2 separate regions of the Homo sapiens genome follow, and region 2 is linked to region 1. The links come from fine-mapping of genetic effects on gene expression. Tissue or cell type: nucleus accumbens. Region 1 holds a variant in brackets; the other region holds the start of a gene. All regions are shown on one strand. Distances are from middle to middle.

Region 1 (9,500 bases):
AAGCAACTGTAATCTGTTGCAAGAAAAGAAGAGTAAAATATTTTCTGTTGAATTAGTAGTGAACAATTTTAAAGCAGTGGAACCATTTGTATTATCAAAATAGCAGTGAACAAGAAACCTGAGATCTGGCCTGGTCTGATCTCAATACTACGATAAAATGAAAGTCTCAGCTTAAGTAAAATCACAGTATTGCTTTCAATTAAACAGTGACATTTATGGTAATGAAACTACATTTTTTGTTGAGGGGCAGCTCATCTCTAAACTACCAAAAGAATATCTTTTCCTTGACACCTTAGTAAGGGTTGAGGGTAGGGGGTGAGAATCTATACATTGGCCACTAACATTGAAAGAAAATTACATTATGATCAGTGTTTTAACTTGGTGAAGGATGCACTTTGTTTTTTTTGCCATCTGCCCTCTTCCAACCTTTTCAACAACACTCCTATTGAAACCTGAAACTGCCTTCATTTTGGAAATACTACTAATTCACATTAAAAGTCCAGAAAAATTTTAGTTTCTTTTGCTGGAATAACAGAAGAAATGGAAGCAAACAAAAACAACCAGCCATGTGACATTCTCTAAATTTGCTTGTGAATTTCTAAATTTCAGTGCTAGCAAAAAAGAAAGTTGCAGCAAGGCATACAGTAAATGAAGATATTATGTATTAGGAAAGGAATGAATCTGTCACTTTGACGGATTGTGAGGCGAAGAGTAGATTAACAGATTACTCATAGTCAGAAGGCAGCTTGGTGTGAAAAATGTGTAGGAAATGATAAGTGCAGGTTTGTGCTGATTTAATGATATTTTTAAACTACAATAACACTCTGGTAGTATAATATAATAAAGCACTTGGCTTACATTTTTGTAAATCATCAACATATTTCCAGTTTGACCTTAAAAACATTTTGGGCCATTCTCTATTAAAATATGTAGCTTTCAAATTAGAAAAAGGTACCATCTATTATAAAATACCACAGCAGTGCCCTTACAGGAAACATCATTGGCTTTTAAAATCAGTTCTTCTCTAAACTAGCATTTGTAATATACATTTTAATTACATTTTTAGCATACCAACACCACATGTACTTTTTCTTCAAGCATTTAAATCACTTACAACAAGAATTTATCTTCTAACAGCCATTTCCAGTGAAATGCTTCAAAGATGCCACTGATTTGTCTTTATATTTTCATTGTCAGTTTTTAGTTTTGTAGTTGAACTCATGGAGTATTTATAAATAAAACAACTATATTTTGTCACAGATACTAGATAAAAGTAGTTCAAATTTCAATTGAGTACTCTGAGAGTCTCTGCAAGAAATAAGATGAATTACTTATTTTATTTTGTATTATTACAAATATTTATCAGAAAGTAAAAGTTTTTAAGAGGTTTATATTTTTATATAAGTAAAATAGAGATTTTAATAGCACACTTGTAGTTAATTTGACAGTGATGGACTTGCCTTGCCAAGGATTTTCAGAATAAAATTCCTATGAAGCATTGAAATAGTTTTTATTCTAATATCTTAATATTCAAAACCTAATGTAAGGCTTGGGTTGTTTAGTATTCTCTTCTCCCAATTCACCAATAATGGCTTTACTTAAGTAGGTACAATGAAACTCGGAGTAAAATACTGCATTTACCATCTAAACATTTGTATCTAGCCCAAACGCAAATAAATATACTACTTTGGCATGTCCAGGGCTTGAATCCCAGACATGATTATGATTCAAGTTATATTTTACATATACAGTGAAGAACTTTACCAGAATTCAGCATGTTTTCTAGATTTCCTCTCTTCTAACGTTCTCTCAACTTGGGGTAAATAAACAATGAGAATAGTCTATATTCTTGGTAGAAATTCTGAAATATATGTAGCAAAAGTTGTTTGCATGTTTTCTGACATCCTTGAAGATTTATTGTCTATAGTAGTTACTGACACTGTTCCCCAAATATTCCCAGCTCTCCAGATTCCAAGTACATGGTTGTATTGCACTTCTAGGTTTCCTTGTTTGGGGGTGGAGCCAACTAACCCAACTAATTCTAGCCAACTAATTAGGAGCATAAGGGCCTACGTTATTTCTTGGCAAGAACATTTACATTGTAGGTGTGAAACCTTCCAGATTATCTTTTCCTCTGACACTGTGACCAGAAACATTCAAGATGATGGTGGTTCAGTCAACCCAGTCACTTAATGACTGTGACAAACAGAGTCCCTATAATGATCTGTTATAAAAACTTAACATGAGCAAGAAATTAACATTTGTTGTTTTTAAGTCACTGAGATTTGAGGGTTTTTTGTTATCAAGCATAACATACCCTTATTCTGACTGACACAGTTGCTAACTGTGACATTGAATATACATTGTCATTGGAAATACAGCATTTCATATATTTTCATATTTGAATGTTAAAAATTGGTTAAACTATTCACTCAGTATGAGATTAATTGGCATATAGTAGAATAAGGGGTTTCATGAGGTGGTATAATGCACTAGTTTAAAAAACTGTCTCTAGAATCAAAAGGTTGGGTTTATATCCTTATGACATTAGTTAACCTCTCCAAGCCCCAATTAAGTTATCTAAAAATAGGAATTGTATTTTACTACCCACCATAAAGTGTTATTGCAAAGATTAAATGAAATAATACTCATAACATGTTTTGCATAGGGCCTGGCATATATATTTTTATTAAATGGTAGAAAGTGATGATAGTATTGGTAGGGATATTAATAGTAATATTAGGAATAATTTTTCAAAAAAAATCATACTTTAACAGAATCAGAGAATCTTAAAGGGTTTGATGAGATCAGGGAGATGATTTAACCCAGCATCTCTTCAAACTTTACACATCTCTGCCAGGGAAGCAGGCTCAGTGCAGCAGAAGACAGCCCATTCCATTATTGGGCAACTCCAACCATGGGAAATCTTCCTTATACTGAGCTGATGTAGGCTTCTCTATAGCTTCTTCCCATTGATCCTAGTTCTGTTTCCAGAACAATAAGTAGAACCATCACTTTTCATAAAATACCTCTTGAATTTTTTAATATCACTTCTGGGTTGCTCTGTTTTCTCCTCTAGTCTCACATTTTCTCACTCCAGTCCCAACTCCATTTTGCCATTCCTGGTCCTGGCATAGTCCTAATCACCGTCCTTTGGATACCTTTTAATTTATCAAATTGGAATTCTCTAAAATGAACACAATAATCTAGATGTAATCCAAAGAGTTCAGACTACAGTTACACCATTGACTAGTATAGTACATTGCTTAAATCACATTCATAGTTTTAGTTCCCATATCCCACTAATGTCTTACATTTGGCTTTTGGTCACCTAAAAAATCACCATCTTTCTCCTGGACTATTGCTATAGCCTTCTAAGTAGCCTCCATGGATCCACATGTCCTTTTCACCACTACTCCTCTCCTTCTCTGCTGCTCTTCTGCTCTTCTGTTCATCTGCTCATGGAACCTGGGGTTTGAGGTTTATATGGGTACATGATAGGGGACATGGCAGGCCAAATGGCAACTTTTGGGCGAGAAAACAGGAATGCCTGTTCCCATTTAGGGCCACAGGTTTCCAGGCTTGAGAGTGGGGCCTTTGCCAGGGAACCACCCTCTTCTACCCATTATTTCCCTGTCTCCGGTCCATATCAAAGATATACAACTGAGAATAAATACATATTGTATGATTCCATTCATATGGAATTCAAAAACAGACAAACTGAGCCATGGGTATTAGAAGTCACCAGGCTCACTTGTAGGGAGAAGAGAGTGTAATAATTAGAAGAAGGAGGAAGGGACGCTTTTACCTCTTGACCCAGGTGGGGATTATGGCTCACTGTGGGATCATTCATTGAGCCATACAGCTATGATTTGTGCATTTTTCTCTGTTTACATTACACATCAATATTAATAAGAATAATTAGTATAATTGTTAATAAGGATAATTGGTATAATTCTTAGTCTAAAATAGTTTGCTTTTTCTAATATTTTAACATTTCTGTATCTTTCTACCTTTTTTATAATTTATGTAAGCTTTCTGTAGAATGAGACTATATTTAAGTGGAATAGCAGCTCAGTAACACCATGAATAATTATGATGATGGTAGCCTGGTGATTTGAGTAAATTATTTCCTTCCTGGGAAGCCTAATTTACTCACAATAATGGTCCAATCAACAAAAGAGTTTTTATTATTTCCTCCCAATGTTTTTAAAATAGCATTTTACCATCATCTGTTCAAAAATCCATTTATCACCCATATCAGTGTTTAATCACAATATTTTTCATTAACTGAAGTGTTACAATTAACACACCCTGAAAATGCTGGGAAATAAATCTAGTCAACTAAAGATCCTGTCAACTTGCTCCAGTTCCTTATTTTCTCATGCAACCAGCCAACACTGGGGGAAATTGAATTGTCATTCACCTCACAGAGCCTTTTTAGCATATCATTGTTTTATTTGAC[T/C]TCTGAACAGAAAGGTATAACCAAACTTTGAAAAGAAAATGGAAATCAGTACATAAATAAGGTATCTGATAATCTGACACAATAATGAAAATGATACCCTGTAGTTATTCTTTACAAAAGCCCAGAGAGCTAAATTAAAGCACTAAATTAAATCCCACCTACTCTTTCTGCACCATTAAGTCCCATCATTCCACAGAAAGATTTGGATGGTTTTATTTTGTATTCTAATTTTAAGGCAATTATTCTCTCGTTAAAGTTAGAAAAGGCTGCAAAGTTTTTTGCTCTTGATTTGCTAATGACTTAGTTACAAAGCATTTAACCTACAGTTGCCTTATAACTCTCTAAAAGGTGTTATATAAAGTTGCTTGGGATTGAACTTTTTTCTGTAATTTTAAACAATAATAACTACTAATGCTATTACTGTGTGGTGAGTTTTATACTGTGTGCCACTGTGTGGAATTGATACATTTTATGTTACAGTTGACCCTTGAACAACATGGGTTTGAACTATATGGGTTCCCTTACAAATTATGACACAGATTTTTTCCAACCCATTTTTCATATATGTGGGTTCTGCATGGCCAACTTGAGGATTTTGGTATATGTGGGGAGGGGGAACTGAAACCTAATCCCCACTCCTACTGAGGGATGACTAGTTTATTTAATCCCTGCTACAACCCAGTAGGGTCAGTTCTCTTATTCCCATATTCCAGATGTGGAAACAAGAGACACAGAGTTTGGCTCAAAGGTCACAAGGCTAAAAGGAAGTTTAAGCTGAGATTAAAAACTGTGCAATTTATATACTAGATTAGTGCCCTAAATGTGTGTCTAATATACAGTTCCACATTGGATTGTCAAAGTGTTTTCCACTGTGGTGGTGGTAGTCATTGCTGTTGCTACAATCCCAGCCTAGCCATGTGTTCATCCAGACATGCAGCACGGGAATATGTTAGCATCCCATTTTGTGACCAGCCACGTCTTGCTGAGATTTAGGAAAGTCGTGCTAGAAGTTGAGGTGATAAACTAAAGGTAAGAAATTTTTCTCGTTGATTCCCCATTTGCTCCCCATTACTTCTCATACAGCGCTGTCCACATTAGAAGCTCAAAAATGTCTGTGGATTCTCACCAATAGGATTTCCCCGGTAACCGTGGTTTAAATGTGAATTTAATTTGTTCATCTGAGGGGCCCATTATATTAGAAACATCCATCTCCAATAGACGGCCCCAAATCAACCATGCTGTGGTTCCCTTTCTCACTGCGTGCTCAGAATCTGTCTGTATGCAGTGAGTTGGAGTTTTGTTTTGTTTTGCTTTGTTTTTTAGTGTTTTCTTCCTCTTTTTTTTTTTTAAATTGTACTTTAAGTTCTGGGACAAATGTGCAGAACATGCAGGTTTGTTATATATGTATAGGTATACACATGCCATGGTGGTTTGCTGCACCTATCAACCCATCATCTACATTAGGTGTTTCTCCTAATGCTATCCCTCCCCTAGCACCCCACCCCCCAACAGGCCCCAGTGTGTGATGTTCCCCTCCCTGTGTCTGTGTGTTCTCATTGTTCAACTCCCACTTATGAGTGAGAACATGCAGTGTTTGGTTTCCTGTTTGTGTGTTAATTTGCTGAGAATGATGGTGTCCGGCTTCATCCATGTCCCTGCAAAGGACATGAACTCATCCGTTTTTATGGCTGCATAGTATTTCATGGTGTATACATGCCACATTTTCTTAATCCATTCTATCATTGATGGGCATTTGAGTTGGTTCCAAGTCTTTGCTATTGTAAATAGTGCTGCAATAAACATGCATGTGCATCTTTATAGTAGAATGATTTATAATCCTTTGGGTATATACTCGGTAATGGGATTGCTGGGTCAAATGGTATTTCTGGTTCTAGATCCTTGAGGAATCGCCACACTGTCCTCCACCATGGTTGAACTAATTAACACAATGAATTGGAGTTTTTTGTTTGTTTGTTTGTTGGTTTTTTAATTTATTCTTTTTTATTATACTTTAAGTTTTAGGGTACATGTGCACATTGTGCAGGTTAGTTACATACGTATACATGTGCCATGCTGGTGTGCTGCACCCACTAACTCGTCATCTAGCATTAGGTATATCTCCCAATGCTATCCCTCCCCCCTCCCCCCACCCCACAACAGTCCCCAGAGTGTGATGTTCCCCTTCCTGTGTCCATGTGATCTCATTGTTCAATTCCCACCTATGAGTGAGAATATGCAGTGTTTGGTTTTTTGTTCTTGCGATAGTTTACTGAGAATGATGAATTGGAGTTTTTATGAAATCTTGTATCAGCGTTACTCTGTGCTAGAGCTGTTAATAAGAAATACTCATCAAATCTTTTTATTTTTAAAATTACTTTTATATAAAATTACTTTTATATTTTTATAGCACTGTTTTCTATCTGAAATAATATTCTTTCTTTGTATATTTACAGTAATGCCCCCCCTTATCTACAGGGGGTACATTCCAAGACTCCAGTGGATGTCTAAAACGACAGATAGTGCCAAACCCTATATATGCTATATTTTTTTCTATATATGCATACCTATGATAAAGTTAATTTATAAATTGACACAGTAAGATATTAACAAGAATAATAATAAAATAGAACAATTATAGTAATATACTGTTCATAACTTCACAGATTTATTCTTACCATAGATCTTAGCAACCTCAGTATATGATTTTTTTCTTTCCTTATTAAGTCGGGAACTTTTGCGGTTTTTACTTAAAGGAAACACTTTGAAGCTTCTCTTTGGCATATCTTAATTGCCAACATCACTATTCTTGCTCTTTGGGGCCATTATTTAGTAAAATAAGAGTTACTTGAACACAAGCACTGTGATACTATCACGGACGATCTGATAATGGAGACGGCTACTAAGAAACTAATGGGTGTGGATACACCAGAAAAGGGATTCAGGTCTGGGACAAGACAGACAGGGACAGCACAAGATTTCACAAATTCAGAACAGTACTTGATTTAAAATTTATGAATTGTTTATTGCTGAAATTTTCCATTTAATATTTTTGGACCATGATTGACCTCAGGTAGCTAAAACCACAGAAAATAAAACCAAGGACAAGGAGGGACTACTGTATTTACTGTCTGCCTCCATCTCTGGATTGTAAGCTCCATGGGAGCAGAGACTCTGTGTTTTTGATACCACTCTTGTGAATACCTAGAACACAAATATAAAGTGGGATAGAGCAGGCATTCAAGTAATTTTCTTAATGTTTTCAAAGATATCACCACGGAGGAAATATAATTTTCTACAACCTCCATGAGTTGTTAGTTGGGATGGACCCTGTAATAAAAGAAGGATTAGCAAGAGAAAAACGAGTTTATTAACATTTGCAGCACACATCCTGTGGGAGAAACCTCAATGAAAAGTAACTCAAAGCAGTGGCTTAGAACTCTGGCTTACGTAACATCTTTCACAAAGAACAGTACATTTGTGGAGAAACAACAGGACAAATGTAAGCAGTTTTTGGCTTTCAAGGGCCAGAAACTGTGAGAAGGTAAATATATGGGAGGAAACCAATGGAGTGAGGTTTCCTTGCAGATTCCTCTGTGGCCATCTCTGAGCTCCTAAAAGTCTAGAGTTGTCTCCAGTAAAGGAGACTTGATATCCTGTCTTTAGGCAGATAAGAGGGAAAGTAGAGAGAGTTTTTCCTGTGTTTGCTTCTTCTTAATTGCCTTTGGCTCGAAAACAATTTTTAGGTCACGGAAGCATATTTTGGGGGACATATTTTGGTTTCCTTCCATATGAAGCAAACCCGTTATGGGAGGGAGGCAGTTACTTCCCCTACATCTTCAATGATGCTGTGTTTATCAGAGATGAGGTCTTCATTCTATGTGTATCCTTCTGGTGGGTAAAAAGATAGTTTTTTTTCTGTTTTAAACCGATACATAATATTTTACATTTATGGAGTACATATGATCTTTTGTTACATGTATGGAATGTGTGATGACCAAGACAGAATATTTGGGGTATCCATCTTGAATATTTATCATTTCTGTGTGTTGGTATCATTTCAAGTCCTCCCTTCTAGCTACTTTGACATATACATTTTTGCTAAATATAGTTACCTTACTCTGCTATCAAACTTTGGAATTTATACCTTCTATCTAATTGTATGTTTATACCCATTAACAAACCTGTCTTCATCCCCGCTCCTACCCACACAGCCTTCCCAGCCTCCGGTATCTATCATTCTACTCTCTACCTCCATGAGATCCACTTTTTGAACTCTCACATATGAGTGAGAACATGAGGTATTTGTCTTTCTGTGCTTGGTTTATTTCACTTAACATAACGACCTCTGGTCCCACCCATGTTGCTGCAAAGACAATAATAGTATTCAGCCATAAAAGAGAACAATAGTATATTGTGTATGTATACCATATTTTCTTTATCCATTCATTCGTTGATGGACACTTAGGTTGATTCCTTATCTTTGCTATTGTGAATAGTGCCGCAATAAACAGGTAAGTGCAGGTATCCCTTTGATATACTGATTTCTTTTCCTTTGGATAAATACCCAGTCGTGGGATTGCTGGATCGAATGGTAGTTCTGTTTTTAGCTTTTTGAGAAATCTCTCATACTGTTTTCCATAGTGGCTGTACTAATTTACATTACTACCAACAGTTTATAAGACTTCCCTTTTCAGAAAGCTTATATACTTTTGGTGGGAATATAAGTTAGTTCAGCGACTGTGGAAAGCAGTTTGGACATTTCTCAAGAACTTCAAACAGAACTACCATTTGACCCAGCAGTCTCATTACTGGGTATATATCCAAAAGCAAACAAACCATTCTTCCAAAAAGACACATGCGCTGTCATGTTCATCACAGCACTATTCACAATAGCAAATACATGTAGTCAACCTAGGTGTCCATGAACAGTGGACTGAATAAAGAATATTATCTCATTCCTACCTATGGCTTTTATTTTAGATTCAGAGGATACATGTGCAGATTTGTTACGTGGGTATATTGCATGATGCTGAGG
Region 2 (9,500 bases), 35 kb before region 1:
TTTTTGTATTTTTAGTAGAGACAGGATTTCACCATGTTGGCCAGGCTGGTCTCAAACTCCTGACCTCAAATGATCCACCCACCTTGGCCTCCCAAAGTGCTGGGATTACAGGTGAGCCACCATGCCCGGCCTGTCCCACTCTTCTTTTATCTCAGTGAATAATGTCAACATCCATATTGATCCTTTAGCCAGGAATTTGGAAGGCATCTTCATTTCTCCCGCTTCTTTATCCCACATCCAGCTGGTCTCCAAATCCTAAGAATCCTCTCTCCTTTTTATCTCTTAACCCACCCTTCCTAATACCACAGCCTTGGCACTTTTCCTTTTTTCTTTTTTCCCCTTAATCCCATGACAGATTATGCACTTTTTTTTTTCAGTATTTATTTTAGATTGAGGAGGTACATGTGCACATTTGTCACCAGGGTACATTGCATGATACTGAAGACTGGGGTACAAATGATTCATTCATGCAGGTATTGAGCATAGTACCCAATAGTTACTTTTTCAATCCCTGTCCCCTTCCTCCCTCTCTCCTTTAGCAGTCCCCAGTTTCTATTGTTGACATATTTATTTCCATGAGTACCTGATGTTTAGCTCCTGCTTATAAGTGAGAACATGCAGTATTTGGTTTTCTGTTCCTGCATTAATTTGCTTAGGATAATGGCCTCCAGCTGCATCCATGTTGCTGCAAAGGACATGATTTCACTCTTTTTTATGGTTTATGCACTTTATTTTTCATCTGAATTCCTTCAATAGTCCCCTAACATCTCTGTGCCTCCAGTCAAAGCACTGTAACCTGGTGGTTAGGAGCCTCAGCTCTGACGTCAAATTTCCACGGTTGAGATCCAAGCTGTGACCCTTATAAAATGCTTGGCACTGTATCTGAGACATAAGTACTTAATAAATGAAGTTTAGCTGTCATTATTATTATCATTATTATTCACATTAGTGATCTTCCTAAAGCCCAAATCTGATCTGATCTGATCTCTTCATTAGGTAAAGCCTTTCAGTGACTCCCCATCACCTCTTTACCTTGGCATACAGGAGCCCCCATGATCTGAGACTTGCCCTCTCTCCAGCCTCATCTCTCACTGCACCCCACCTTTCACTCCATTCTGTAGTCCCTAGATGCACTCTGCACATTATCCCTGTACCGTGGACCTGATTATCCTCAAGACTTAGCTCTAAAGTCACTGTAGCCCTTCTCCAGGCCTCGTTGTGAAGGATACACCTTCTCTGCCACAAGAGTCAGGAGTATCTCCCTGATAACTCTCACCACAAGCTTGCTTGTCTGTCTCACATTCACTCATTCCACACATATGTTTTTGAGTGGCACACATGTGCTGTGAACTAGGCTGGCTACTGAGGATACAGATAAAGCCTTATCCAAGCTTGAGGTATTCACAGTTTTGGTGGGGAAGCCCAGGTAAACGGCTCACTGTAACTCAGGGTGGCAAGTGATAGAATAACGAGTTATGGGAACACGTGAGAGGGAGTGATTCCGCATGTGGGTTTCAGGGATGCTTTCACAGAGAAGACAACAGTTAAGCCAAAGTTCAAGAATGAGTTCAAGTTTACCATGCAGACAAGAGGGGACTGGAATTCCAAGTTCCAAAAGGAAGCCAAATTAAGTCTGTGGTGGAGGGGACAGTGGGGAGTCTCTCCTTTAGCAAGATAACCTCCTCTTAGTGCCTTCGTTTCTCTGTCAGCTTGCGTAGCACTTGAAATGAGTTTTGCTTGTCTCGCTACCCACCCCCCACCCAACATACACACAAGTGAGCCACTCTGCTCCTGCCACACTGTCAACTTGGCTGTCAGTTGGTGAGCCATGCCCTGTGTTCAGATCAGGCCATGCTCATCTCTTCTCTGTCTGGCAGCTCCTTCTCTATTTAGAAAATGGCTCTTTAATTTCTGTTTTGGTTTTTTGGTTTTTGGCTAATTTTTTATTAAAGACTTATAATTGTTTTGAGCCGTTTTGGGTTCACAGCAAAATTGAGACGAACCCTATTATCAGTGTCCCCCACCAGAGTGGTAATTTGTTACAATTAATGAACCTCCATTGACACATCATTGTCACATTATCAGGGTTCACTCTTGGTGTTGTGCATTTTATGGATTTAGACAAAGGTATAGTGACATGTATCTACCATTATAGTATCATACAGAGTAGTTTCACTGCCCCTAAAATTCTCTGTACTCTGACTGTTTATCCCTCCTTTTGCTTATTTCTGAAGGCCCCAACTCACTTGTCACTGCTTCATGAAACTCTCCCCAACCCTCATCCCACCCTGAACAGAATTATTCGCTTCCCTCTCTGGGTCCCTGTTATCTTCTGGCTCAATTACAGCACTTATGACATTAGCCAACCACTGTTACCACTATCCCCAGGCCTGGTTGTGAATTCCTTGAAGGCAGAACCCTGCCTGTGTTCTTTCATACCTTCTGTGTTGGAGCACAAAGGCTAGCACAAGGCATCACAGCTAGTTGTCAGTCATTACTTGAATGAATCAATCAATAATATTTTTAAAAATTCCTTGTTTACGGATGAGTTTAGGTCCTTTGCAGGGACATGGATGAAGCCGGAAACCATCATTCTCAGCAAACTAATACAGGAACAGAAAACCAAACACTGCATATTCTCACTCATAAGTGAGAGTTGAACAGTGAGAACACATGGACACAGGGAGGGAAACATCACACAGCAGTGCCCGTCGGAGTGTAGGGGGCTAGGGGAGGGATAGATAGCATTAGGAGAAATACCTAATGTAGATGACGGGTTGATGGGTGCAGCAAACCACCATGACACATGTGTACCTATGTAACAAACCTACACATTCTGCCCATGTATCCCAAAACTTAAAGTATAATTTTTAAAAATTCATTTTTTACTCTAAAATAATTTTCGTCAAGATTCCAAAATAAACATCAGCTTTGCTTTGCTTAAATAAATCCTGAGTGATGCATGTAATATTTTCAATTCAAGATTTGATAAATGGATATTAAATATACACCCAAAGGAAAATCTCCTTCTGAGCAGGGCCTGATTGCAAATAGGAAGAAAAAGATGTAGTCCGGTCCCATTCAGTTTAGCATTTTTACCTGACGACTTCACACACATTGCAGTCTGAAGCCAGAAAGCCTACGCAGAGTAAAATGAAGAGTCTTTAGCAAAATCCTTTGTGTTTAACACAAACTTTGATTCCTCAGCATCTGTACAGTTCAGAGTAATATGTACTGTTTAAAAGGTGTTTAGATATAACAAATTAGTCATTTAAAAGTGTAATTAAATGTAACCACATTCCTCATAGCAAATTGGCTTTTGTAGGCATCTCTTGCTAAATAAATCAAGCCTACTGAGAAATCCATTGGCCTTTGACAGACAAATTTTTCAAAGTTTCTAACTTAGAACCAAATTCAATTAAAACAATACTTTACAACTTCTGTGGAAACCAGGCTACAATCAATCAATTTTGGAGAGTTTCTGTTAGGAGTAGCCCTCGTGAGATTTATTCAAAAACTGGGCTCTCGGCAGCCTTTGGAAGGGCACTAGGAGTTAGTTATAATGAATTTTAAGTGAATTTTATCTTGGTGAGGGATTTTGATTGACAATAGCATAAAGCCATGTTGTGTGTGTGTGTGTGTGTTTTCTTTTTTTAAGGAACAGGAACAGCTATCAATGGACACTGCTTCATGGGATGCCCAAACAAATATAAACTCTAGATCAGTCAACCTGGGCTCAAATTCCAGCTCTGCCATTTATGGACATGATCATCTTTGAAATGGAAATAATAAAAGAACCTTCCTAATATTGGCATTATGCAAATCGAATGAGTACATGAAATGCATGTGCCTGGTGCTTAGCAGAGTAAGCTCACACTGACTGTCAACTGCTGTTTCCCCAAGGTTATTCTCCTCAAAGGGCCACTTGAGTGATCAGAACAGAATTTCTAGGACATTTTCCCTTTTTATGACGACTGAGACCTGAAAGAGTAAGCAGAGATTCTGTAGTGTTTGTTTTGATGTGAGTTTAACCATCAGCATACAGACTGACTCCCTCAGATCCTTCCAAATAAACTCCTTCATTATCTCATTATTTCAATATTTCATTTCACTGTCTCTCCTCAAATGTAGATTCAAGAAAAGTAGGTTTATTGTGCAGCTACCCTGTGAGCAGATGCCCCAAAGCTGTCATTCCTTCAGGTTAATAATTAACATAACCTGAACGGGGGCATGGTGGCACAGGTCTGTATTCCCAGCTAATTGGGAGGCTAAGGCAGGAGGATTTTAGCCCAGGAATTCAAGGCCAGTGTGGGTAACACAATGAGACCCCATCTCTTAAAAAAAAAAAAAAGAATTCCCATACCTAATATCAAGCACATAAGTCTCTTTAGCTTACAAAAAAGAAAAGAAAAGCTCATTGCATGCATCCATCAACATGGCATGTTGCAGAGCATAATATTCGGAGAATAACGAGGCAAAATACACTTAATAAAACTGCAGGCATATGGTGAGGTTCTCAGACAAGTTATTTATGGTCTTGATTAACCTTGCAACATTATCGCCATTTTCATAGGTTTTACATAACAACATAAAAATATTATCTTTACCTTTTAACATGGCAGGATTATCTTATCTCCGGTTCTTTTATTTAGCCTTCATTTCGCTCCCTCACCCCAAAATCTCTAGCAGCTTGATCATGGAAAAGCAAAGCTGCTTGTGCTCCGTGGTAGTTAATTATATATGAATACTGTTTTCCTGGCACTAGCACATAGCAACAGCGCCACCAAAAGGCCGAGGTCCTGAGTTTCTGGGATCTGTTCCATTTCTTTGCTCCACAGCATATCAGCGTTTTTGCATGATATTCCTGGTTGCTGTGTATTCAAAATATAATATATTGGCATTTCAGACTCCTTATAATTAATAGGTTTTAATTTGTTCTGATCTACAGATTCATTAACTTCTCAGCTCTCTTTGGGTAGAATGAGTTTTCTTTTAATCCTCCTGAACTAAAAAGGTATGCAGTTGATTGTGCTAAGCTGCAGATAAATCATATGAGCAGATGTTCTTATACAACTATAGAAATGATATACGAAAACTGATATTAGAGTCAGTGTAATAGTGACAATAGAGACAGTATCTGTACTGTCAGGAGGAAATATTGAAATGTGCAAGTTGTTCTGTGTTTAGTGACTATGAAAGTCACCCCAGGAAATAAACTTTTCTTATTCTCAGAGTACTGTCTATTACATTTTATGATTGTCCCAAATTTAGTAACGTGGCAAAACTGATTTTTTAAATTGTAAATACATAGTGACATGTCATGAGAATGAAAACAATGAAATTAATTTATGGTAAGGAGATAGTCATATATATTTCAAATAAATGTATTTCTTCAGGGTCACTTTTTTTTCCTGCCACAAACAGAACTGATTTTGTCATTTTGTTATTCAAAAACTTAAATAGTCACCACTCTAGATGCACTCTCGAGCTGGAATAAACACTACAGACTAGTGGTTGAGAGGGTAAGCTGTGGACTCAGACTGCCTGGGTTCACATTCTAGCTCCACTCTTTCCTGGCAGGCACGATCCTGGGTTAATACCCAGTGTCAATTTCCTCTTCTGTTGAATGTAGTTGTTCATCCTATTTATTTCATAGAATTGCTCTGAGGATCAAATAAGATCATATCTACCAAGAATTAGCATAAGTACTCAATAAATGTCAATCGCCGCTATTATGATGATGGTCGTAGTTCATTGTAGATACTGGTTGTCATCCCTTTGCATCTACTTACGATATTCTCTAGGTATGACTGAATGCCAAAATCAAAACAAATTCTATATTATTTCATTGGTGCTTTCACAGGATGCTACCTACCTAGAAATAGGTTTACTGCTACATATGTTTATAAGCATATTGTAGGGGAGGAAAAATATCTTTTTCTCACCCACCCTGGATTCATCGCCAAGGCCTCTGTTGCAACAAAAGACAGATTAGCAAAAGAAAAACATACAAATTTATTTCATGTAAGTTTTCCATGATACAGGAGTCTTTATAAGGAAATGAAGAACTGAACAAACAGTGAAACTTGAATATTTTTACTCCAGGTTTGATGAAGAGAGGAAAGTGGTGGAGAAATATGATTGGGCAAAGGAGATATGAGCTAATGGAAATAAACGAAGAAAATCAGCAAGGCTTTTGTTCAGATTCTTCTCTGTGTCCCTGTGTCTTCAGAGATAAGGATGTTCCTTTCTTCAGGGGATAGGGACGGCATCTCTCAAATGAGTATCTTATGACCTGCTCCAGGGGGTGTTCAGAAAATCCTAGCTATGTTTTATGACCAGCTGCAGGGGAGAACAGGAGAAGGTGAGAGTGACCTTCCTGCTACTGTAAATGCCATGTCCTGAACTCCATCAATATCCATTTGTAGGTGAGGATGTCTAGCCTCAGACAGCTAGTTGTTCACCTTTCTATGTGTTCGTGTCAGCAGTTTTTATTTGAAAAGTTTCCATTGGTTACTTTTTTGTTTTCTAACACTTAAAAATCACTATGAGCAAAGATGGAAAGGGATCAGTCTGTATAGTCTTTTTTTTTTTTATTATACTTTAAGTTTTAGGGTACATGTGCACATTGTGCAGGTTAGTTACATATGTATACATGTGCCATGCTGGTGCACTACACCCACTAACACGTCATCTAGCATTAGGTATATCTCCTGATGCTATCCCTTCCCCCTCCCACCACCCCACAACAGTCCCCAGAGTGTGATATTCCCCTTCCTGTGTCCATGTGATCTCATTGTTCAGTTCCCACCTATGAGTGAGAATATGCGGTGTTTGGTTTTTTTTGTTTGTTTGTTTGTTTGTTTGTTTTTTCATGATTTTTTTTTATTATACTTTAAGTTTTACGGTACATGTGCACATTGTGCAGGTTAGTTACATATGTATACATGTGCCATGCTGATGTGCTGCACCCACTAACTCCTCATCTAGCATTAGGTATATCTCCCAATGCTATCCTTCCCCCCTCCCCCCACCCCACAACAGTCCCCAGAGTATGATATTCCCCTTCCTGTGTCCATGTGATCTCATTGTTCAATTCCCACCTATGAGTGAGAATATGCGGTGTTTGGTTTTTTGTTCTTGCGATAGTTTACTGAGAATGATGATTTCCAATTTCATCCATGTCCCTACAAAGGACATGAACTCTTCATTTTTTATGGCTGCATAGTATTCCATGGTGTATATGTGCCACATTTTCTTAATCCAGTCTATCATTGTTGGACATTTGGGTTGGTTCCAAGTCTTTGCTATTGTGAATAATGCCGCAATAAACATACGTGTGCATGTGTCTTTATAGCAGCATGATTTATAGTCCTTTGGGTATATACCCAGTAATGGGATGGCTGGGTCAAATGGTATTTCTAGTTCTAGATCCCTGAGGAATCGCCACACTGACTTCCACAGTGGTTGAACTAGTTTACAGTCCCAGCAACAGTGTAAAAGTGTTCCTATTTCTCCACATCCTCTCCAGCACCTGTTGTTTCCTGACTTTTTAATGATTGCCATTCTAACTGGTGTGAGATGGTATCTCATAGTGGTTTTGATTTGCATTTCTCTGATGGCCAGTGATGATGAGCATTTTTTCATGTGTTTTTTGGCTGCATAAATGTCTTCTTTTGAGAAGTGTCTGTTCATGTCCTTTGCCCACTTTTTGATGGGGTTGTTTGTTTTTTTCTTGTGAATTTGTTTGTGTTCATTGTAGATTCTGGATATTAGCCCTTTGTCAGATGAGTAGGTTGCAAAAATTTTCTCCCATTTTGTAGGTTGCCTGTTCACTCTGATGGTAGTTTCTTTTGCTGTGCAGAAGCTCTTTAGTTTAACTAGATCCCATTTGTCAATTTTGTCTTTTGTTGCCATTGCTTTTGTTGTTTTGTACATGAAGTCCTTGCCCATGCCTATGTCCTGAATGGTAATGCCTAGGTTTTCTTCTAGGGTTTTTATGGTTTTAGGTCTAACGTTTAAATCTTTAATCCATCTTGAATTGATTTTTATATAAGGTGTAAGGAAGGGATCCAGTTTCAGCTTTCTACATATGGCTAGCCAGTTTTCCCAGCACCATTTATTAAATAGGGAATCCTTTCCCCATTGCTTGTTTTTCTCAGGTTTGTCAAAGATCAGATAATTGTAGATATGTGGCGTTATTTCTGAGGGCTCTATTCTGTTCCATTGATCTATATCTCTGTTTTGGTACCAGTACCATGCTGTTTTGGTTACTGTAGCCTTGTAGTATAGTTTGAAGTCAGGTAGTGTGATGGCTCCAGCTTTCTTCTTTTGGCTTAGGATTGACTTGGCGATGCGGGCTCTTTTTTGGTTCCATATGAACTTTAAAGTAGTTTTTTCCAATTCTGTGAAGAAAGTCATTGGTAGCTTGATGGGGATGGCATTGAATCTGTAAATTACCTTGGGCAGTATGGCCATTTTCACGATATTGATTCTTCCTACCCATGAGCATGGAATGTTCTTCCATTTGTTTGTATCTTCTTTTATTTCCTTGAGCAGTGGTTTGTAGTTCTCCCTGAAGAGGTCCTTCACATCCCTTGTAAGTTGGATTCCTAGGTATTTTCTTCTCTTTGAAGCAATTGTGAATGGGAGTTCACTCATGATTTGGCTCTCTGTTTGTCTGTTGTTGGTGTATCAGAATGCTTGTGATTTTTGTACATTGATTTTGTATCCTGAGACTTTGCTGAAGTTGCTTATCAGCTTAAGGAGATTTTGGGCTGAGACAATGGGGTTTTCTAGATATACAATCATGTCGTCTGCAAACAGGGACAATTTGACTTCCTCTTTTCCTAATTGAATACCCTTTATTTCCTTCTCCTGCCTCATTGCCCTGGCCAGAACTTCCAACACTATGTTGAATAGGAGTGGTGAGAGAGGGCATCCCTGTCTTGTGCCAGTTTTCAAAGGGAATGCTTCCAGTTTTTTCCCATTCAGTATGATATTGGCTGTGGGTTTGTCATAGATAGCTCTTATTATTTTGAAATATGTCCCATCAATACCTAATTTATTCAGAGTTCTTAGCATGAAGGGTTGTTGAATTTTGTCAAAGGCTTTTTCTGCATCTATTGAGATAATCATGTGGTTTTTGTCTTTGGCTCTGTTTATATGCTGGATTACATTTATTGATTTGCGTATATTGAACCAGCCTTGCATCCCAGGGATGAAGCCCACTTGATCATGGTGGATAAGCTTTTTGATGTGCTGCTGGATTCGTTTTGCCAGTATTTTATTGAGGATTTTTGCATCAATGTTCATCAAGGATATTGGTCTAAAATTCTCTTTTTTGGCTGTGTCTCTGCCCGGCTTTGGTATCAGGATGATGCTGGCCTCATAAAATGAGTTAGGGAGGATTCCCTCTTTTTCTATTGATTGGAATAGTTTCAGAAGGAATGGTACCCGTTCCTCCTTGTACCTCTGGTAGAATTCGGCTGTGAATCCAT

The links.
Region 2: it holds the start of CFAP20DC-AS1, and the variant in region 1 is fine-mapped to the expression of CFAP20DC-AS1 in nucleus accumbens (GTEx, PIP above 0.99).

Annotation. Positions count from the first base shown.
Region 1 is chr3:58,784,458-58,793,957 of GRCh38, reverse strand. The region is part of intron 15 of CFAP20DC (CFAP20 domain containing); the gene reads left to right. Among named protein-coding and RNA genes, the nearest start is that of CFAP20DC-AS1, 35 kb to the left of the region's middle. The variant T/C (reference allele first, on the strand shown) is at 4,466.
Region 2 is chr3:58,819,683-58,829,182 of GRCh38, reverse strand. CFAP20DC-AS1 (CFAP20DC antisense RNA 1) reads right to left here and starts at 4,712. Exons shown (of 3, transcript NR_110820.1): 1 at 4,608-4,712. The region is part of intron 14 of CFAP20DC (CFAP20 domain containing); the gene reads left to right.